Regions from separate parts of the Homo sapiens genome. Here region 1 is linked to region 2. Evidence: fine-mapped expression QTL. A gene starts in region 2. The other region holds a variant in brackets. All regions are shown on one strand. Distances are from middle to middle. Region 1 holds the start of LOC124904623 (a long non-coding RNA gene). Region 2 holds the start of SH2D3A (SH2 domain containing 3A).

Evidence for each region. PIP is the estimated chance that this variant, and not a neighbour inherited with it, causes the effect.
Region 1: its variant is fine-mapped to the expression of SH2D3A in whole blood (TOPMed, PIP above 0.99).

Annotation. Positions count from the first base shown.
Region 1 is chr19:6,742,608-6,751,885 of GRCh38, reverse strand. It overlaps TRIP10 (thyroid hormone receptor interactor 10), which reads right to left. Exons shown (of 15, transcript NM_001288962.2): 4 at 8,772-8,919; 5 at 8,630-8,692; 6 at 8,288-8,392; 7 at 8,050-8,178; 8 at 7,186-7,332; 9 at 6,892-7,086; 10 at 5,690-5,857; 11 at 5,325-5,434; 12 at 1,820-1,952; 13 at 1,455-1,594; 14 at 1,253-1,374; 15 at 356-823. The coding sequence ends at 675. LOC124904623 (a long non-coding RNA gene) reads left to right here and starts at 3,299. Exons shown (of 2, transcript XR_007067109.1): 1 at 3,299-3,435; 2 at 3,530-3,722. RefSeq lists enhancers at 5,643-6,143, 8,195-9,114. The variant T/G (reference allele first, on the strand shown) is at 5,447.
Region 2 is chr19:6,759,710-6,772,561 of GRCh38, reverse strand. SH2D3A (SH2 domain containing 3A) reads left to right here and starts at 5,127. Exons shown (of 10, transcript NM_005490.3): 1 at 5,127-5,175; 2 at 8,746-8,882; 3 at 11,575-11,924. The coding sequence starts at 8,814. RefSeq lists silencers at 1-35, 4,589-4,648 and enhancers at 6,737-7,637, 11,232-11,732.

The DNA of each region.
Region 1 (9,278 bases), 19 kb after region 2:
ATTAGCTGGGCATGATGGTGTGTGCCTGTAATCCCAGCTACTTGGGAGGCTGAGGCAGAATTGCTTGAACTCGGGAGATGGAGTCTGCAGTGAGCTGAGATCACGTACGCCACTGCACTCCAGCCTGGGCAACTGGGTGAGACTGTCTCAAAAAGAAAAAAAAAAGAAACTTGGTATCCTTCTCCCTACCTGAGTCACAAGCAGACACCCACTGACAATGACATAGGCCAACTTCCAGAAAGGGGCAGGGTTGACCCAAGGTGTGCCCAAGATCACCTCCCCTTCCTCATTCCCTGTGTGGCCTGTAAGAAACGTGGTGTTAGATACTTCCAGTCCCAGTATTTAAATCCTCTAATAAGACACCGACTCTAGGAACTTTATATAATTTCTTTTTTTTTTTTCCCATTTTTGTATAAAACAAAATGGCCGGAGCCGAGCGGCAGAAAGAAAAGATGTAAAACATGAGTATGTACATCAATGGTGGAACGATGGTAGAAGGCACAGCGGGTCCGTCCGGTGTGACAGGTAGGACTGGGTTGGGGGTGGAGGGGGCAGCAGGTTACACAGGTCTCAGCCGAAGCCACGGGGTCAGAAATAAAGTGCATAGGTCCTGGGGCTCCCCGTGGCCCAGAAGCAGCAGCCGACAGCCCCCCTCTTCCCGTCTCTGGCAGGGTTCAATTGAGCGTGACTCGGAGGTAGGAGGTGGGCACGTAGCCCTCGCCTCCCTCTTTCCGCCTGACCCGGGTCCAGCCGTCCCCTTTGTCTTCTTCCATAAGACTGAGGTCTTCACCCTCGGCCATAGAGATAGTGCCCTCGCTGGACCCTGTGATGGGGGTGGGGGTGGGCCCAGATCTGCTTTAGGCAAAATTTATTATTTTTATTTTTTATTTTTGAGACAGAGCCTCGCTCTCGCCCAGGCTGGAGTGCAGTGGCACGGATCTTGGCTCCCTGCAACCTCTGCCTCCAGGTTCAAGGGATTCTCCTGCCTCAGCCTCCCGAGTAGCTGGGATCACAGGCGTGCGCCACCACACCTGGCTAATTTTTGTACTTTCAGTAGAGATGGGGTTTCACCGTGTTCGCCAGGCTGGTATGGAATTCTTGACCTCAAGTGATCTGCCTGCCTCAGCTTCCCAAAGTGCTGGGATTACAAGCCTGAGCCACCCGCCCAGCCCTGCTTTAGGCGAATTTAAACTGAACCTAGCCAGAGACACTGCCTCCCATACCCCGCCAAGCCCACTCTGGCCGTTCTCACCTTCAAAGTGGTAGATGGCCACACAGTGACCTATGGGGGATGTGGGTTCCTCCTCGAAATCCTCATCAAACTCCGTGTAAATGGGGGTGTCCTGGCTCTCTTCTGAGGGAGGCTCTTCAGAGCTGTTTGGGGATAATTCGGCAGATAAAGACAGGCCCTCCTGGGACCCTGGGAACAGACCCACTCTGACGTCACCCCTCACCTCTCCTTGGTGTCCTGTGATGCGCTGTTGCTGCTGCTGTCTGGCGGGGCGCTAGCGGGGGGGTCGGGAGGCCGGGCGTGCCGGCTCAGGCTGTCTCCCCGGTTGCTAAGGACTCGACTTTCAGCTTCTGCCAGCCACGCCTGGGAGGAGGGGACAGGAAAATCGTTCCAGGGCAGAGCTCCGGGGTCAGCCCACTTTGGACCCAGAGGTTCCCTGAGATCACCCACGCACAGCCAAGGCTGTGATGGAAAACAGCTGGAGACCCCCCGCTCCGAACACCTCCCCTGTCCCCGACCCCCCACCCCACCCAGCAGTGACTCAGCCAGGCCCGCTGGCTCCCGCCCCTCCCCAGGGTCTTTCCTGACCTCATACTTCTGCACTTCCAATTTCAGCCGTTCAATGTTGCTCAGGGTTTCAGCGATCTGGGGCTCCAAGCTGGCGGGGTCCCCCATCTGAGGTGTCTTCTCATAGACATCCTTCATTTTCTTTAGGGCTTCCCTATGACAAGGGAGACAGGATAGACAGGAAAACATACTTCCGTGTGAGTTTTTTTGTTGCTGTTGTTTTGTTTTGTTTGAGTCAGGGTCTCATTCTGACTCTTTCCCCAGGCTGGTGTGCAGTGGTGCAATCATGGCTCACTGCAACCTTAACCTCCCGGGCTCAAGTGATACTCCTGCCTCAGCCTCCTGAGTAACTGGGACTATAGACCCGCATCACCACACTCGCCTGATTTTTCAAAAATTTTTAGTAGAGATGGGGTCTGGCTATGTTGCCCAGGCTGAGTTCAAGGGATCCTCCTGGCTCAGCCTCCCAAAGTGCTGGGATTACAGGCATGAGCCACAGCACCGGGCTCCATGTGATTTAACAAGCAAAAAACAGGGGTTTTGCATCAAGGAGCAAATAGCAAGGCAGGACAATGGTTAAGGATGCAAATACTAGTGCCCGACTGCCTGGGTTCGAATCTCAGTTTGAATATTTCCTAGCTGTGTGAGCTTGGCTTAAATCATTGAACCCCCACTGCTGTTTGCTTATTTTGGAAATGGAGATAATGATCCTAATATCTCATGTGGGTCACTGTGAGGATTAATACAATGCCTGATACCTAGTAAGTCCTCACTATTACTCATATACATATTGAGTACCTACTGCATACAGGTCCTATTCCAAGCATCAGAAATATAACACTGGGCTGGCCGTGGTGGCTCACATCTGTAATCCCAGCATTATTTTGGGAGGCTGAGGTGGAAGGATCACTTGAGGCCAGGAGTTCAAGACCAGCCTGGGCAATGGTGTGAGACTTTGTCTCTAGTAAAAAATCAAAATAATTTTTAAAAAATAAAAAAAGAAGGGGGGGCAGGGGAAAAAATAAATAAAGATAAATATAACACTAAACAAGACAGATCTTAAGTCTGCATACAATCTCTCAGGAAACCTTGAAAATTCGAATAAATCCATGTACACTGTTTCGAATAGTGCCTAGAATGCAGTAAGTGACTAATAAATACTGTTATCATTATCATCAGTTTCTCATCCCTGTCTCCCCTATGTCTATATATACAGGTAGTCACGACTATAATGGACCTTTGGAAAAGACCAGATCTGAGCTCAACTTCCTTCCAGTTATTTTTTATCTTTTTTTGAGACACAGTCTCACTCTGTCGCCCAGGCTGGAATGCAGTGGCGCAATCTCGGCTCACAGCAACCTGTGCCTCCCGGGATCAAGTGATTCTCGTGCCTCAGCCTCTGGAGTAGCTGGGACTACAGGCACACGCCACCACGCCTGGCTAATTTTTATATTTTTAGTAGAGACAGGATTTCCATATGTTGGCCAAGCTGGTCTCAAACTCGGTCTCAAGCCATCTGCCTGCCTCGGCCTCCCAAAGTGCTTGGATTACAGGCATAAACCACTGCACCCTGCCAACTTCATTCCAGTTCTAATACCTGATCCACTTTACAGATGAAGAAACTGAGGAATTAAAAGGTAAAACAGGCTGCCCAAGTCCTGAGATGAAGCTGGAAATCAAGTCCAGTTTGTCGTGACTCTAGAACATGCACCCTTAACCCCTCCACCGTAGAAACTCAGGAACTAGAGAGTTCTGAATGGAACTTTACACCAATAAAAGCCATTCTGTCCAAGAGGTTACATGCAAATGGCAAAATATAATTTGGCTGCCTGTTTGCAAGTGGCAAACATCATTCCTATTATGTAACAGAACTGGGAAGAGGATTTTGTTGCCTGGAAAGAGTGAGTAAAGATTTTTTTTTTAATCTGCCAGATTTTTTTATTGTCAATATTTTAAGTGTTTGAGCTATTAAATAGATAACCATATGCTGCTTTTCTTTTAGCCAATTAATGTGGTGAACTAGATGGATACATTTTTTGATATTGAACTATCTTTGCATTATTGGGATAAAACCCAACCAATGGTGGATTTTTTTTTTTTTAGTTTTTAAAAAAATTTACTTGGGTTTTTCTTCTTCTTCTTCTAAGAGATGGGGTTTTACTACGTTGCCCAGGCTGGCCTTGAACTCCTAGGCTCAAGTGAGTGATCCTTCTACCCAGCCTCCCAAAGTGCTGGGCTTATAGGCATGAGCCACTGTGCTCGGCTAATGTATTATTATTATTATTATTATTATTTGAGGTAGAGACTCGCTGTGTTACCCAGGCTGGAGTGCAGTGGTGCAGTCTTGACTCACTGCAACCTCCGCCTCCCAGGTTCAAGCGATTCTCCCACCTCAGCCTCCCGAGTAGCTGGAATTACAGGCGCGTGCCACAATGCCCAGCTAGTTTTTGTATTTTTAGTAGAGACGGGGTTTCACCATGTTGGTCAGGCTGGTCTCGAACTCCTGACCTCACGTGATCTGCCCTCCTTGGCCTCCCAAAGTGATGTATTATTTTTTAAACACTGGATTTGCTTGGCTAGGATTTTGCCTCTATGATCATAAATAAGGTAAAATGAGCCCTTAATTTTATCTTATTGAATTCTTGGCCACAGATTTGGGAATCAGGATTCTTCAGCCTAAAGAGGTTGACAGCTTTCACACTTTTTCTGTTTGCTGGAATGACTTGTATAAGACAAGAAGTAACTGTTTCTTTTTTTCTTTTTGAGACAGGGTCTCACTCTGACACCCAGGCTGAAGTGCAAGTGGTGCAGTCACAGCTCACTGTAGTCTCCATTTCCCAGGCTTAAGCCATCCTCCCACCTCAGCCTCCCAAGTGGCTGGGACTACAGACACAAACCACCACACCCAGCTAATTTTTTTATTTTTGCTAGAAATGGGGTCTCACTCTGTTGCCCAGGCAGGTCTCAAACTCCTAGGCTCAGATGATCCTCCTGCCTCAACCTCCCAAAATGCTGGGATTGCAGGCACAGGCCACTGCACCTGGCCAAGAAGTAACTAAGTGTGGTAGGAATCACCTGTAAAACCGTCGGGGCCTTGGGATTATTGGGGAGATCTTTGAGTACCATTTAAATGTCATTCATTTACAGACCCGGGCAGTGGCTCATGCCTATAATCCCAGCACTATGGGAGGCTGAGGCAGGCAGATCAACTGAGGCCAGGAGTTCAAGACAGCCTGGCTAATATGGGGAAACCCCGCCTCTACTAAAAATATAAAAATTAGCTGGTGCATGCCTGTGGTCCTAGCTAATCGGCAGGCTGAGGCACAAGAATTGCTTGAACCTGGGATGTGGCGATTGCAGTGAGCTAAGATCACAGCACTGCACTCCAGCCTGGACGACAGACTAAGACCCTGTCACAAAATAAAATATAATAAAATAAATAAAATAAAATAATAAACAAATAAGTGAAGTTCATTTACTATTTTATCATGTTCCTTGCCTGTCCTTCCCTACCCCACCACCTTACCTCTGGTCAACCTCCTTCTGAAGTTCACGACTGCGTTCTTCCAACTGCTGTTGAAGCCGTTTTCGCTGCTGCTCTGGGGGCAAGTGGCTAAAATCCTCGGTCACCACTGTCTGCAAGGTGGG[T/G]AGAGGGCTGAATTTGGGATCAAGGAGTCTAGCCTGCCAGACTCTGCACCCGTCTGAGATATTTCACTCCCTTCCCCAGCCATGGTTCTTGACAGCGAAGCCATGCACAGAGCAAAGCAGGTCTGGGTTGGGCAACCAGGGAAGAGGGGCCCAGCCAGCGGCAGGAAGCGAGCCCAGGGTCCCGCCACCCGCCGCTGGGCAGGCTAGGGCCACCACCTCCTCCTGCCCCGAGGCCTCACTTACCCCACGGCTGCCTCGAAGGCTGCGGAAGGATGCTAGCCTCGGTTTGACCGACTTACTGATCTCGCTCAGTATGGCCAAGGGGTCACGGCCGGAGCGGGGGGACGGGGGTCCGTTAGGCAATGCCGAGGGTACGGGGCCCCCCAGGGGGGAGAGGGGTGGGGGGCGAGGCTACCGGCGGGGGCCGGGGAGGGGGATAGGTTGAAGGGGTGGGGGGGCATAGGAGGATGTAGAGAGTGAGGACGAATGGACGGAGGGATGGACGCACGGATGGACGGATGGACGCAAAAAAAGGAAAAAGGAAAAACAAAATGGAGAAAGAAAAAAAACGGTAAGAAAACCACAACTCAAGATGCACAACCACACAGAGAAAACGCATGCAGGAGCGACACAAAAAAATCTGGAAGGTGGCGGGGAGGATGTTGAACTGTAAGCCCGAAAGCCAGAACTCTCACTCCCCCGGTATCTCCTAGGTCTCTGGAATGTTATGTCCGGGAGCAAGCATGGGTCCAGGAGGCAGGGAGGCCCATGTCTCTCTGTCCACTTAGCTTTCTGGGCTGACAGTCTAGAAGACGCATGCAGGAATCAAGGTCTCAGACAGGTAAGAGGCCACAGAGGACAAAAATAAATAAACAAAAATAAAACCACAAGCCGAGAGGGAGTGGAAGGCAGGAAAATGAGAGGGGTTAGGGGCATCAGAAGTTTAAGCTCGGGGATCACAGGTGTTAAGTCAAGGAGAGGTATGAGAGTGTAAGTGAAGAGGGACCCAAAGTATAAATCAAAGGTATAAACCAAGGGTGCTAAGGTATATTAAAATCCAAAAACCCAAGAAAGCAAGACATGCAGGGCGGCTCCCAGAGTCCCATCAGCAGGATGGAGAGAGAAACTCGGGGAGTCCCCAGGGATGGTGTCACCAGCCCTCAGGCCAGCCCTGAATTCCACCAGCAGGTTTTCTCCCAGCATCCCGAGAAGCAGCAGACAAACGCCACGGACCTCCCCACCTCCCCACCCTGCCCCCGCCTTCGCCTCGGGGGACTCCCAGGCCAATCGGCCGCCTTCCTTCCCTCCAGTCCGGGCTGGCAGCCAAGAGGAAAATTCCTGCCCGAGACTCGGCGTTCAGGCGGCTGGGGCTGACTCAATAGGGGCCCCACTGTCCCCACTTCACTGTCCTTCTCCCCCACCATCCCAAGGGTCCCGGCCCCCACCTTGTTCTTCTTGCCAAAAGGCCAGCGCTTGGTGCGGCTGCGACCCGGGCCTCGGAGTTCAGGCCGTCCATCCGAGGGGGTGCCCAGACTGCTGTCGGAGGGTGCACGGTTCATGGGCTGGCTGAAGTCCTCGAATTCCACGTCGCCCGGGCGGGCAAAACCTGACTTGTGCAGCTCTATAAGGACGTGGGAGTCCTGGGGGAGGGGGACAGTGGATGAGCAGTCGAGTGCCTAGCCTATGGGTACCTCCCTCTGCCCTTCCCGTAGCCCAGTGGACCCAGACCAGGCACCCACGTTCTTGGGATCCACAGCATTTGCAGCCACCTTCATGCCCTCCAAGCACTTGGCTATTATGGGCACCACCTCCAGCTCGGCCTCCGACAGGAGCCCATACCCGGCACCCAGGCGGGTGGCCCTGCGTTCATCCATGTCTTGGAGCTTCTGTAAGGACAGGGACAAGGGTGGCTCAGGGGTGCTAACAGAGGGACTAGAAGCACAGTGATTCACTCTGCAAATATGATCGCGCTCCACGCTGGCCCCAGCCCCAAGCCAGTCTGGAGGGGAAGACAGAGTCGGGAAGAGAGACTCCAGCCCACTGTGGTTGGGGAAGAGACACAGGGCCAGGGGGATCTCAGAGGGGGACGCGTGCCTAGGGGGTCAGCAAAGGCTTCTCAAAGGAGGAGACAAGGGAACAGGGATTTGAAGAAAAAGCAGAACCAGCCCTGATACTCCCAGGGCCACGGATGGGACAGAGAGTGGAGCGCTAGATTGAAACAGGAGAGGGGAAATTCGAGACCTTTCAGAGGGGTTGTTAGAGGTGGAGCTTAGAAGAATAAGTAGGAATTTCAAAAAGAAAGAAAGGTCACTTGAGCACAGGGGTTCCAGGCTGCAGTGAGCTGTGATTATGCCACTGCACTCCTGCCCGGGTGACAGAGCCAGGCCCCATCTCTCTATAGAAGTAAATAAACAAACAAGTAAAAGGCATGCCCAGCAGGAAGAACAGCTGACTAAAAGCACAGCTCACTGTTACTATAGGTTTCTGATTCCCTTTCAATCTAGGGACTGGGACATTGCAGCTGGGGTTTTGATGAATGCGTAGGAGTTGGCTAACATTTGGAGGCTTTCGGGAAGGTAGGTCTGAGAACTGGGAGCACTCACATCGAATATCTGGGGCATCTGTGAAAAATAGAAGTGGGCTTGGTCTCGGTTGAAGCGCTGCAGTTGAGCCGCATATTCGTTTTTGCTTTCTTCGGCCATGTGACTCCGAAGGTGGGCTTGCTGCTTGGCCTGAAGAATGCAGAGGTGGAAGGTACTGCCAGGTTCCGATCACGTCCCACTCGGACTCCCCAAGCTTGTCCCAGACCCCGCACCCCCCCCCCGCCCCCGCCACACACACCTTCTCCACATCAGCCTTGGTGGCGTTGATATCCTGGTCTAGCCGTTCAGCAGTCTGGGCTGCCTTCTCTGCCTCCCGGCAGTCCCGCTCAAATTTACGCTTACTCTGTGTAGGGGACAGAACCGGAGTGAGGGAGCCACCATCCCAAAGACAGCAGGGTGGGAAACCAAGGTTTCAGGGATTATTGGGATGTCATCCAGTAAGTAGGGGTCAAGGGAGTACTGGAAGCCTATGGGGGAGGGAAGGTCCAGGTCTGACAAAGAGGGCAGCTCCCTGACTCCGGATCCGCAACCCTGCCCCCATGCCTCCGGGCCACAGTCACTGCTACCTCTGCAAACTCACATTCTCCAGCTGTTTAAAGCCATTTTCCAGCTGCTGCTGGGCCCGCCGCCCTTCTTGGAAGTGCTACAGAAAGAAGAGTGATAAGGCTCGCCAGGGTTCCAGCAGAAGCCCTTTGTAAAACCTGAATCGGGGGGCTCCTCACCATCTTCCTCTCCTGTTTCATCTCTTGTGAGTACTTGGTCAGCTCAAGACATACACGGACACTGAGGTTCTCAGCCACCAGCTCCCGCTGGCCTGCAAAGTCATTCACCTCCTGGAGAATCTGTACGAAGGACTGTTGCTGGCTGAATCTGGGGTTGGATGAGAATCGGGGAACAGGGAGTCAGGCCCCTCCTCCCGAGCAGGCTGATGCCCCAGGACGCACCTCCAGGTGGAAAAGGGTTAAGCCCCAAGAATGTAATCCCTGAAGCGATGACAAATTCTGGTCCATATTCCTTAACCCCAACCCTTGAGTAGATTTTTTTTTTTTTTTTTTTTGAGACAGGGTCTTGCTGTCACCCAGGCTGCAGTGCAGCGGCATGATTGCGTCTCACTGCAGCCTCAAACTCCTGGGCTCAAGTGATCCTCCCACCTCAGGCTCCCAAATAGCTGGGACCACAGGCACACGCCACCACACCTGGCTAATTTTTTTTTTCCAGATGAGGTCTCA
Region 2 (12,852 bases):
CCACTCGACACAGGCCTGGGCATGGGGAGTTGGGGGGCTGGGGGAGTCAGGCCAGCTAGACTATGAGATGGGTGAGCTTCCTCCATATGCAGACGGCGGCAGTGACACTCTGAAATATACCCAGAATTCACCCACTTCTCACCCCCTCCTCTGTCTGGTCCAGCCCCGTCATCACTCAGCTGGTCTTCTGACTCCAGCCCCCGTACCCCACAGTCTGTCCTCCCTGCAGCCACCACCAGAGGTTGCCTGTGAGCATCTGAGTCAGGGCACACCCTTCTTCTGCCCACAACTCTCTATGGCTCCCACTTTCCTCCAGGGACAAGCCCAAGTCCTCCCCAAGGCCCACAAAACCCTGCTTGAATTGCCCAGTTCCCTCCCTGCCCTCCCCACTCCCTCTCTCCCCCTCTTCACTGTGCTCCAGCCACACGGGCCTCTTCGCTCTTCCTCCAACATGCCAGGAACATACGGCCCTGCCCCAGGGCCTTTGCACGGGCTGTGTCCTCCACCTTAAGCAACTTCATGGCTAGCTCCCTCACCCCTACATGTCTTTGCTCAAATGCTACCTTCTCATGAGGTCTTCCTAAATCCCCTCATTTCAAATCACAGCCTTTTCCGCATTCCATTAGCTCTACCCACCTCCCTAGGTTAAGCCCTGATCTTTGTCCAACAAATCTGATTTTTTAAGTTATTTTTTTCCTTCCTTCCTTTCTCTCCCTCTTTCCCTCCCTTCCTTTCTTCCTTCCTTCCTTCCTTCCTTCCTTCCTTCCTTTCTTTCTTTCCTTTCTTTCTCTCTTTGTTTCTTTCTTCTTTTTTTTTTTTTGAGACGGAGTCTCACTCTGTCACCCAGGCTGGAGTGCGGTGGCGCAATCTCAGTTCACTGCAAGCTCCGCTTCCCGGGTTCACGCCATTCTCCTGCCTCAGCCTCCTGAGTAGCTGGGACTACAGGCGTCCGCCACCGCGTCTGGCTAATTTTTTGTATTTTTAGTAGAGACAGGGTTTCATCGTGGTCTCGATCTCCCGATCTCATGATCCGCCCGCCTCAGCCTCCCAAAGTGCTGGGATTACAGGCGTGAGCCACCGCGCCAGGCTTCTTTCTTCTTTTTTTTTCTTTTGAGACGGAGTTTCACTCTCGTTGCCCAGGCTAGAGTGCAGTGGTGTGATCAGCTCACCACAACCTCTGCCTCCTGGGTTCAAGCGATTCTCCTGTCTCAGCTTCCCAAGTAGCTGAGATTACGGGCATGCATCACCACGCCCAGCTAATTTTGTATTTTTAGTAGAGACAGGGTTTCTCCATGTTGGTCAGGCTGGTCTCGAACTCCTGACCTCAGGTGATCCACCTGCCTCAGCCTCCCAAAGTGCTGGGATTACAGGCGTGAGCCACCGCGCCCGGCTTTTTTTTTTTTTTTTTTTTTTTTTTTTTGACAGGGTCTCATTCTGTCACCCAGGCTGGAGTGCAGTGGCATGATCTCAGCTCACTGCAAGCTCTGCCTCCCAGGTTTTCCCTGACCTCAGCCTCCCAGGCAGCTGGGATTACTGGCACCTGCCACCATGCCCAGGTAATTTTTGTATTTTCACAGAGACAGGGTTTCAGCATGTTGGCCAGGCTGGTCTCAAACTCCTGACCTCAAGTGATCTGCCCGCCTTGGTCTTCCAAAGTGCTGGGATTACAGGCTTGAGTCACTGTGCCCAGGCTCTTTCTTCTGTCATCCAGGCTGGAGTTCAGTGGCATGATCATAGCTCACTGCAGCCTCAAACTCCTGGGCTCAAGTGATCCTCCCGCCTCAGCCTCCCAAGTAGCTGGAACTACAGGCTTGTGCCACTGTGCCTGGCTAATTTTAAATTTTTTTGCAGAGAGGGGCTTTTACTATGTTGCCCAGGCTGGTCTTGAACTCCTGGCCTCAAGCAATCCTCCCACCTCGGCTTCCCAAAGTACTGGGATTACAGACGTGGGCCATGGCACCCGCTCATCATTGTTTCTTTATTGTCTGTTCAAGAATTTATGTTTCTTTGGTTCACTACTGACCCCTCTCTTATGCAGCACCTGACACATAGGCATGCCCCTTAAATACCTGTTGAATGAATAAATAATTGAAAGCTCTATTGACTGCACCTGACATTTATCCCAAATCCATCCCTTTATCACCATGTCCATGGTCACCACCCAAATCCAAGCCACCATCATCCCTCTCCTTATAGACTACAATAGTGTCTTTTTTTTTTTTTTTTTTTGTCTTGCTCTATGGACCAGGCTGGAGTGTAGTGGCGCAATCTCGGCTCATTGCAACCTCTGCCTCCCAGATTCAAGTGATTCTCCTGCCTCAGCCTCCCGAGTAGCTGGGATTATAGGTGTCACCATGCGTGGCTAAATTTTTGTATTTTCAGTAGAGACAGGGTTTCGCCATGTGGCCCAGGCTGGTCTCAAACTCCTGGCCTCAAGTGATCCACCTGCCTCAGCCTCCCAAAGTGCTGGGATTACAGGCACGAGCCACTGTGCCAGGCCCAATAGTGTCTTTCATTAACTCATTCAACAAACATTTACTGGCTTCCCGGCCATTACCTTATCATTAGCTGAAATCATCTTCATGAGATTAGGTCTCTCTGCCCCCATCCCTAGCTTCCACCCCAGTAGAGTGTAAGCAGGCCCTCCCCCGTCCACCTAATACGTGGCCCTCATCATGGAGTTTCTTTTTAAATTATCGTTATTATTATTCTTAGGAGAAAGTTTCACTCTGGTTGCCCAGGCTAGAGTGCAATGGTGCAATCTCTGCCCACAGCAACCTCTGCCTCCCAGGTTCAAGTGATTCTCCTTCCTCAGCCTCCCTAGTAGCCGGGATTACAGGTGCATGCCACCACACACAGCTAATCTGCTCACAGCAACCTCCGCCTCCCAGGTTCAAGTGATTCTCCTTCCTCAGCCTCCCCAGTAGCTGGGATTACAGGTGCATTCCACCACACCCAGCTAATTTTGTATTTAGTGGAGACAGGGTTTCACCATGTTGGTCAGGCTGGTCTGGAACTCCTGACCTCAGGTGATCTGCCCACCTCGGCCTCCCAAAGTGCTGGGCCCTCTTTTTAAATTATTATAACCACGAGGAGGCGCTAGACCCCTTCCCTGAACATGCCCCTACCCTCTGACTGTACCAATACCAGACCGGTGAGGGATAAGGAAGAAACTTTCTTCCCCTCTTGAGCCTGGAGTCTCTTCCATATTTGCCAGGGCCAGTCGGGGGAGCCCAGTCTGGAAATTCCCTGCTTTGCAACCTACAGGCATCAAAACTTTTCATCCCCAAGCATCGTTGGCCCTCTAGGCCTCAATTTCCTCATCTGTAAAATGGTGGGTGAGTAACTTTCACCGCAAAGCAGCATCGTGGAGAAAGTGGGCATGCGAAGATTGAAAAGGAGGCAGACAGGATAAAGCTCCAGAGCTCCGGGTTTGAATTTCGCCTCTACCACTTACAAGCCAGGTTAACTTGGGCAAATGGTTTAGTTGCCCTGTGCCTCAGTTTCTCCATCTGGAAAATGGAAGTGATGAAAATACTACCTACCACCCTTACAGGGTGGTCTGTTTGAAAATTAAAATAGAGGCCTCATGCCTGTAACCCCAGCACTTTGGGAGGCCGAGGCAGGTGGATCACATGAGGTCAGGAGTTTGAGACCAGTCTGGCCGAGACCCCATCTCTACTAAAAATACAAAAATTAGCCTGTAATCCCAGCTACTCGGGAGTCTACAGCCGGAGAATCGCTTGAACCGGGGAGGTGGAGGTTGCAGTGAGCTGAGACTGCTGCCACTGCACTCCAGTCTGGGCAACGAGAGTGAAACTCCATCTCAAAAAATAAAATAAAATAAAATAAAGGCAAGTTGACAGAACAGCCCTTGTGTACAGTAAGTGCTCAATAAATGTTAGCTGCTGCTACTGCTTTTAAGACTGTGGTTACTGGGGCCAAGCACAGTGGTTCATGCTTGCTTGTAATCTCAGCGCTCTGGGAGGCCAAGGCAGGAAGTTCGCATGAGCCCAGGAGTTCCAGAGCCTGGGCAGCATAGTAAGACGCCACATCTACAAAAAATAAAATAAAATCAGCTGGGTGTGGTGGTGTGCACCTTTAGTCTCAGCTGCTTGGAAGGCTGAAGCGGGAGGATAGCTTAAGCCCAGGAGGTTGAGGCTACAGTGAGCTATGATCACCACTGCACTCCGGCCTGGGCAATATAGCAAGACCCTGTCTCTACAAGACAAGACTGATGTTAATATGAGGAACTCATCAATAAACGTGGCCAAAGAGTCCTCTCTCTTGCACTAGGTCCCTGTCACCTTTTCTCTTGTTCGTCTCCAGGCATCACGATGGAAGTCCCCCCCACCCTTCTTCCCACCTGGGAAACCACCTGAATGATTTGCCTTCCACCTCCACCAAAGTCCCGCCCCGCTCCAGCGTGCTGTCACTGAAGGAAGCTGTCGCGTTTTCCCGGACGTCTCTCCACAAAACCCGCCACCTAAATGGGGCTTCTTTCCGGAAAATCCGGGAGGGCGGTCTGGAGGAAGCGTACCCCTCCTTACGTCACAGCTGCCGCAGCTACCCCAGCCTGGCGTAAGAGCCCGAGGGAGTTGCCCTGCCCTGACCCGGAGCCTTGGCGGGGAGGGGAGAGAGGCACCCCACTCCACCCCGCCCTGGTCCCAAAGGGCCATGGGTGCTTGGGGCCGCCTGGGTGGAAGGGAGGGGCAGGGTTCTAAGGGGCGGGAACGTTGGGATGAAATTTCTTCTATTGCCCTAAGGGGCGGGGCTGAGAAGGAGGTGGCTGCGGGTGGGCGTAGTCATTCGGCGGTGGTCGTGGCTATATACAAGGGGAGGGGCCACTGGCAGGAAAGGATGCGTGGTGCTCCCCTAGTGGGCGGGGTCTATGGAGAAAGCGGTGCGATGCAGAAGGAGGCGTGGCTAGTAGCAAAAAAAATGGTTTTAAGGGGGCGGAGCAAGGGCCTGGGAAGTTAGTTTGAGGCGGGGCCCGCAGGGGGCGGGGTCTGCAGGAGGTGTGGTCAGGTAACTGGGCTGAGTTCCCACTAGGTGTGGTCTGGGAAGGCTGGGGCGGTGGCAAGGTGGAGGGCGGGGGTGACAGCAGCCCGGAGCCGCGGAGCCTCAGCTTCCGCCTGGACCCAGCCTCGTGGGAGCCCCGCGGGTCCTGCCCAGGTGAGTGGAGCCCCAGGGCAGATCCAGAACCAGGATTATTGGGATGGGGAGTCCTCTCTTTCCAGGTGGGGTCACCGGCTCGCAGGGAGGATCTGGGGTAGAAGAGGTCGCCTCGCGAATGAGAGGGTCGCTGTGCGTTACGCGTGTCGGTGTGCTCGGGCTCACCTGGGCGTGCCTCTCTAAGTGTATTTCCTGTGCAGCACAGAAAGCCATTGTTTCCATTTTTGCCTGAGTGATCCTCTTAAACGGCGAATCAGATCGGGCCCCTCCTTCACTTAAAACCCTTGGGTCATAGAGATTAAAATTCAAAGTCCACTAGTTTTTGCCTAGTCTCTCCTCCTGATCTCTCCAACCTCATTGCCCTCCTATCTACTCCTTCCTCATCGTATTCCGGCTACACCAGCCGCCTTGATGATGTAAAATGTAAAAAGCAAGTCCATCTCAGCTCCAGGCCTTTACCCTTACTGTACCCCTCACCCAGGCGACTCCTCCAAATCTTTGCCTAACTGCCTCCTTCTGTACTGAGGTCTCAGTTCCAATGTCACTTTATAGGAGAGGCTGTCCTGTCCAGCCTCCTCTATCACATCTCCCTGGCTTATCACTTTCATTGATAACTCTTAGAAATGGTCTGTCTTCTCCATTCATCTTGTGCTCGTTTGCAGTCTGTCTTGCGCAGCCGACTGCAAGCTCTGGAGGGCAGGGTGGTGCCGAGCTTTAATCTCCTTAGTCACTGTATCTCTAGGTCCTAGAACAGAGCCTGGTGCACAGCAAGTGCTCCAGCAATGGTCGTCCAACGTCAAAAGCGAGTCCTGCCTACATCTGTGTTTGTGTTGCCTGTGCTGGTGGTTCCCACCCTCCACGTCCTCCCCACACGTGGACACATGTTTATGATCCAACTGGAACATGAATAATCCCCTCTCTCCTCTCTCTATGCTTGGTCTGATTCCTGATTCTGCCCGTTTCTTCTCTTCCGTGCCCGAATAAATGATCCCAAAGGACTCAGAGGCAGGAGATGGCTTAGTTGGCCTTTGGCTGACCTATGGCCACCCTGTGTCCTCAAACTAACCAGAACCTTGCCATTGACTCAACTTCACTCTCACTAAGGGAGACACAAGACAGGAACTTGGGGTTGGGAAACTCTGCGACCGAGGCTAGCCCTGGTCCAGGTGACAAACAGGAAGTGCGCAGGCATTGCAAAGACACACCTGGCTTCAGGTATGCGGCACTGGCAGCTGGCTCCCTGCCCAGCGCTCCTCCCCTAAAGCCACCTAGGGCTGGTCTGGGAACTTCCTGCTGACTCAGGAGGCAGGAATTTCTCTGCAGACCCCACCAGAAGACTTTGCAGGGCTGCAGGGAGAGCTTGCAGGAGAGTAAGAAGCAGATTATCTTCTTCTGGACCATCCAGAGAAATCTCCCCCACCAGACACCTGAGACACACTGGCCCTGAGGCCTGTGAGATTATCGGGAAACTACCAAAATGTCTGAGATCCAAATTCAATCATCATGATAACCACATGTATGGGCTCCGAAATAGAAGGATCTGCAAAGGCAACATTGCTGTTTGCTGACATTGCTACAAAATGTGACCTTTTAAAAATCTTAACCCTGGGGTTACATTCTTTTTTTTTTTTTTTTTTTTGAGACGGAGTCTTGCTCTGTCACCCAGGCTGGAGTGCAGTGGTGTGATCTCGGTTCACTGCAGGGTCTGCCTCCTGGATTCAAGCGATTCTCTCTCCTCAGCCTCCTGAGTAGCTGGGACTACAGGCACACGCCACCATGCCTGGCTAATTTTTGTATTTTTAGTAGAGACGGGGTTTCACTGTGTTGACCAGGCTGGTCTCAAACTCCTGACCTCAGATGATCCACCCACCTCTGCCTCCCAAAGTGCTAGGATTACAAGAGTGAGCCACCGCGCCTGGCCCCCAGCGTTGCATTCTAAAGCAAAGAATAGGGGTTAGATCTGCACCTATCCTGAGAACCTCTGAGTGTGCGCATAGGTTGCCGAGAAGCCATGGATGTTTGTAAGTTAAATTCCCCCTGACTGGGATGTTTTTTCACCCAGAGTCACCTGGCACACTCCCCAGAATTCCTTCCAGACTTTACTCAATGAGACCTTTCCTGGTCACATGATCAAAAATGTTCACCCAGCCTGGGCAACGTGGCAAGACCCAATCTCTACATATATATTTAAAAATTAGCCAGGCACAGCCAGACGCAGTGGCTCATGCTGGTAATCCCAGTGCTTTGGGAGGCTGAGGAGGGTGGATCACCTGAGGTCAGGAGTTCGAGACCAGCCTGGCCAACATGGAGAAACCCCATCTCTATTAAAAATATTTTAAAAATTAGCCAGGCATGGTGGCACACACCTGTAGTCCCAGCTACTGAGGAGGCCGATGCACGAGAATTGCTTGAAACCAGCAGGCGGAAGTTGCAATGAACTGAGATCATGCCACTGCACTCCAGCCTGGGCAACAGAGTGAGACTTGATCTCAAAAAAAAAAAAAAAAAAAAAAATTAGCCAGGTACAGTGGCCCACGCTCATAGTCCCAGCTACTCAGAAGGATGAGGTGGGAGAATCACTTGAGCCCAGGAGGTCAAGGCCGCAATGAGCTGTGATTGCACCACTGCAGTCCAGCCTGGGCAATAAAGCAAGACTCTGTCTCAAAAAAAAAAGAGTGTTCACCCTAGCACCTGTACTTTCATTATATCCCATCCATGGTTTAGTTTTTTTGTCTAGCACTCACTCATGTATGCCATCATCTAGTTCTTTTCTGAGGTGCTGCTCCCCAGTAGAATGTCAGCTCCCAAGGACAGAGATTTCCATCTGTTTTGTTCAATGCTATGTCTCTAGGGCCTAGAACAGAGCCTGGGACCCCATAAGGTGCTGAATAAATAGGGGTTCAGTGAATTCATTAATTACATTTCTGCAAGATGGGGTGGCATGTTGTCATCTTCAGCCATTTTTTTTTTCTTCGATTGCATTATATTTGGAACAGGCACGATGGTGACATCTGTAATCCCAACTACTTGGGAGGCTGAGGCTAGAGGATTCCTTGAGCCCAGGAATTCAAGGCTAAAGTGTGCTATGATCACACCTGTGAATAGCACTGCACTCCAGCCTGGGCAACACATAAGACCTCTCTCTTTAAATGTAAAAAAAAAAGTCTGCGTGCAGTGGCTTATGCCTGTAATCCCAGCACTTTGGGAGGCTGAGGCAGGTGGATCACCTGAGGTCAGGAGTTCAAGACCAGCCTGGCGAACACAGTGAAACCCTGTCTCTACTACAAATATAAAAAAAGAAAAAACATTAGCTGGGTGTGGTGGTGCATGCCTGTAATCCCAGCTACTTGGGAGGCTGAGGCAGGAGAATCGCTTGAATCTGGGAGGCAGAGGTTGCAGTGAGCCAAGATCGCACCATTGCACTCCAGCCTGGGTGATAGAATGAGACTCTGTCTCAAAAAAAAAAAAAAAAAAAAAAAAAGATTTGATGGAGCTGTCTCCAAAATTAAGAAGAGGATGAAAGGAGCTGACCCAGACACTCAAGCAGGGCTAATTATTCCCCTTTTACAGATGTGGAAGACTGAGGCCTGTTGAAAGTGCAGAGCTCAGCCCTGGCACCCTCTGTTCCCAAGAGCTCCATGCAGGTGCCACAGGATGGAGAAGACCTTGCTGGCCAACCTTGGTACCACGGCCTCCTGTCCCGCCAGGTACCACCCACAGCAGGACCTCAGCACCATCTGGTGGGGAGCCTCTCCCACCCTTGCTGAGGATTCCTGGGTCCCTGGATGAGGGACTTAGTGCCAAGGTCTATTGGGACAGGTGGCAGAGGGCTGGGGACTGTCTTGAAGGTTGGCTGGCTGGGGACTGTCACTATATTTAAATTATCACTTTCTTTGGGATGATGAGATTGGTGATGGAGCTTAAGGAGAGTCCTAATGCCCCCAAACTACTCTTGGCTCTGGCCGTCTCTCCCTCTGAACTCCATCTACCTCCTGGTATTTCCCTCTAAATGTGAGGCTCCCAAGCCAGGCATGGTGGCTCACGCCTGTAATCCCAACAGTTTGAAAGGCCGAGGTGGGCGGATCACTTGAAGTCAGGAGTTCAAGACCAGCCTGGCCAACATTGTGAAACCCCATCTCTAATAAAAATACAAAAATTAGCCAGACATGGTGGTATGCGCCTGTAGTCTCAGCTACTTGGGAGGCTGAGGCAGGAGAATCTCTTGAACCCAGGAGGCAGAGGTTGTAGTGAGCCACAATTGTGCCACTGCACTCCAGACTGGGTAACAGAGCGAGACTCTGTCAAAAACATAAATAAATAAACAAACAAATAAATCTGAGGCTCCCACCTCCATCTGAAACTCAGTTGTCACCCCCAAAAATTCTGGGACCCTGAGCATCTCATGAAATCATGAGAGGCAGTAGAACTTAATAGTTAAAATCCCATAATTGAGACCCAGACACCCTAGGTTCAAATCCAAACCCTACAATTTATATTGTATGTGACCTTGGGCAGGACATTTGACCTCTCTGGGCCTCAGTCTCCCGATCTTTAACATAGGGATAGCAGGCCAGGCATGTTGGCTCATGCCTGTAATCCCAGCACTTTGGGAGGCTGAGGCAGGAGGATCACTTGAGGTCAGGAGTTCCAAACCAGTCTGGGCAACATAGCAGAACTCTGTCTCTACACAAAAAAAAAAAAAAAAGCGAAAATTATCCAGGCATGGGTGGCATGTACCTGTTGTCCCAACTACTCAGGAGGCTGAGATGGGAGGATTGCTTAAGCCCAGGAGGTCAAGGCTGTGAGTGAGCCATGAGTGCTCCACTGCACTCAGCCTGGGCAATCGAGAGAGACCTTGACTCAAAAAAAAAAAAAAAAAAAAAAGGCCGGAAGAAAAAAATGGGCCGGGCATGGTGACTCATGCCTGTAATCCTAGCACTTTGGGAGGCCGAGGTGGGTAGATCACCTGAAGTCAGGAGTTCGAGACCAGCCTGACCTATATGATGAAACCCCCTCTCTACTAAAAATACAAAAAAGTAGCCAGGCATGGTGGCATGCACCTGTAATCCCAGCTACTCGGGAGGCTGAGACAGCAGAATCGCTTGAACCCAGGAGGCAGAGGTTGCAGTGAGCCGAGATTGTGCCATTGCACTCCAGCCTGAGCAACAAGAGTGAAACTCCGTCCCAAAGAACAACAACAAAAAAAGGTATAATAATACCTACCACCCTTGTTACAGGAATTACAAGAGTTAACACCCTTTACATTTAAAGCAGTGCTTGACATATAGTAAGGGCTACACACGTGTGTCTGCTACATCTATTATTTAGTCCCCAGACCCCATGTTCAGCTCTACTTTGCCTCTCTCTGGGGTCCTGGCCCTTCTACCTGCCTCCCCAAGCCTTTTTTTTGTTTTTTTTTTTGTTTTTTTTTTGTTTTTGAGACATGATCTCACTCTGTCACCCATGCTGGAGTGCAATGGCTCCATCTCGGCTCACTGCAACCTCTGCCTCCTGGGTTCAAGCGATTCTCCCACCTCAGCCTCCTGAGTAGCTGGAATGACAGGTGCACACCACCACGCTCAGCTAATTTTTATATTTTTTGGTAGAGACAGGGTTTTGCCATGTTGCCCAGGCTGGTCTCAAACTCCTGATCTCAAGTGATCTGCCTACCTCAGCCTCCCAAAGTGCTGGGATTACAGGTGTGAGCCACTGTGCCCCACCCTTCCTACCCTATTTTGACACCAGCCACCACAGCTGGCATAAGACTGCTTGCAAATGTTTATAAAAGAGGGGGCCCCAATCTGGAAGCATCCAGCTAATGGCTTCTCTTGAAGCCACATTTGCATAACAAGCACAGTGCATTTACCAAATTAGATGTTGCATTGGTCAGCATCAGCTAGTGGCTGTAACAAACATTCCCAAGATATCACCAGCTAAACACAGTCAACATGTTAATGTCATAGTCCAAGGTGGTTGAGAAGCAGAGATGCAAAGCTCCATAAATCAGTTGGGAGCCAAGTGCATCTTGTAGCTCTGTCATCCCTCTGGGCTTTGGGGGATATCAGCTGACAGACAGGGGACACAACCTATAAGATTGTGCAGCAGGGTTTTATGCGCCAGGTCTGGATATTTCCCATAGCCCTTCTACCCCACATCCCATTGGCCAGTTCTCATCACATGACAACCCTAGCCGCAAGGGAACCTGGGAAATGTAGTCTACGTAGGTGCCAGGAGAAAGGGGGACAGAACTTGGTGTGAAAGTTCCCCGTCTTTGCCTGCCACAGAAGTTTCACTGGGGTAGCTTTTCTTGGGTGGTGGGGGCAATGGTGGGGGGAGCTACCATTAACCACTGCCCTGGACTCATTCCTAATTCCCCTGCCCCCTGAACTTCATCCACAGAAGGCTGAAGCTCTTCTTCAGCAAAATGGCGACTTCCTGGTTCGCGCCTCTGGGTCCCGTGGGGGCAACCCCGTGATCTCCTGCCGCTGGCGGGGCTCAGCCCTCCATTTTGAGGTGTTCCGTGTGGCCCTGCGTCCCCGGCCAGGCCGACCCACAGCCCTCTTTCAACTGGAGGATGAGCAATTCCCCAGCATACCGGCTCTGGTTCACAGTTATATGACAGGCAGGCGCCCACTGTCCCAGGCCACAGGGGCTGTGGTCTCCAGGCCTGTGACTTGGCAGGGGCCTCTGCGACGCAGCTTTAGCGAGGACACCCTGATGGATGGCCCAGCTCGGATAGAGCCTCTCAGGTACTCACAGTCTCCCTGCCTCCTTGAGAACACCCAACACTCGCAGGGTTTTCCAACTCAATGGTTGACTTTTTTTTTTTTTGACTGAGTCTCACTCTGTTGCCCAGGCTGGAGTGCAGTGGCATGATTTCAGCTCACTGCAACCTCCACCTCTCAGGTTCAAGCGATTCTCCTGCCTCAGCCTCCAGAGTAGCTGGGATTACAGGAGTGCACCACCACGCCCAGCTAATTTTTTTACTTTTTTATTTTTTATTTTTCTCTGGAGTCGAAGTCTCACTCTGTTGCCCAGGCTGGAGTGCAATGGCACGATCTCAGCCCACTGCAACCTCCGCCTCCCGGGTTCAAGCAATTCTCCTGTCTCAGCTTCCCGAGTAGCTGGGATTACAGGCGTGCACCACCATGCCTGGCTAATTTTTTGTATTTTTAGTAGAGACGGGGTTTCACCATGTTGGCCAGGCTGGTCTCAAACTCCTGACCTCAAGTGATCCACCCGCCTCGGCCTCCCAAAGTGCTGGGATTACAGGCATGAGCCACCACGCCTGGCTAATTTTTTGTATTTTTAGTAGAGACAGGGTTTCACCATGTTGGCCTGGCTGGTCTTGAACTTTTGACCTCACGTGACCGCCCGCCTCAGCCTCCCATAGTGCTGGGATTACAGGTGTGAGCCACCGCACCCGGCCTTGGTTGACTTTTGAGGCCCGAACATTCTTAGTTGTGGGGGAGGAGGTGGAGATGTCCTGTGCATCATAGGGTGCTGAGCAGCATTCCTGAGCTCCATCCAACTAGATGCTACTAGTTGTGACAACTAAAGATGTCTCCACACGTTGCTAAGAGTCCCCTGGACGTAGGTCACCTTGATTGGTTGAGACTCACTGGTACAGAGTAACTGGACACAGGGTTTTGCAGATATTGGTGGGGGACACTGCTT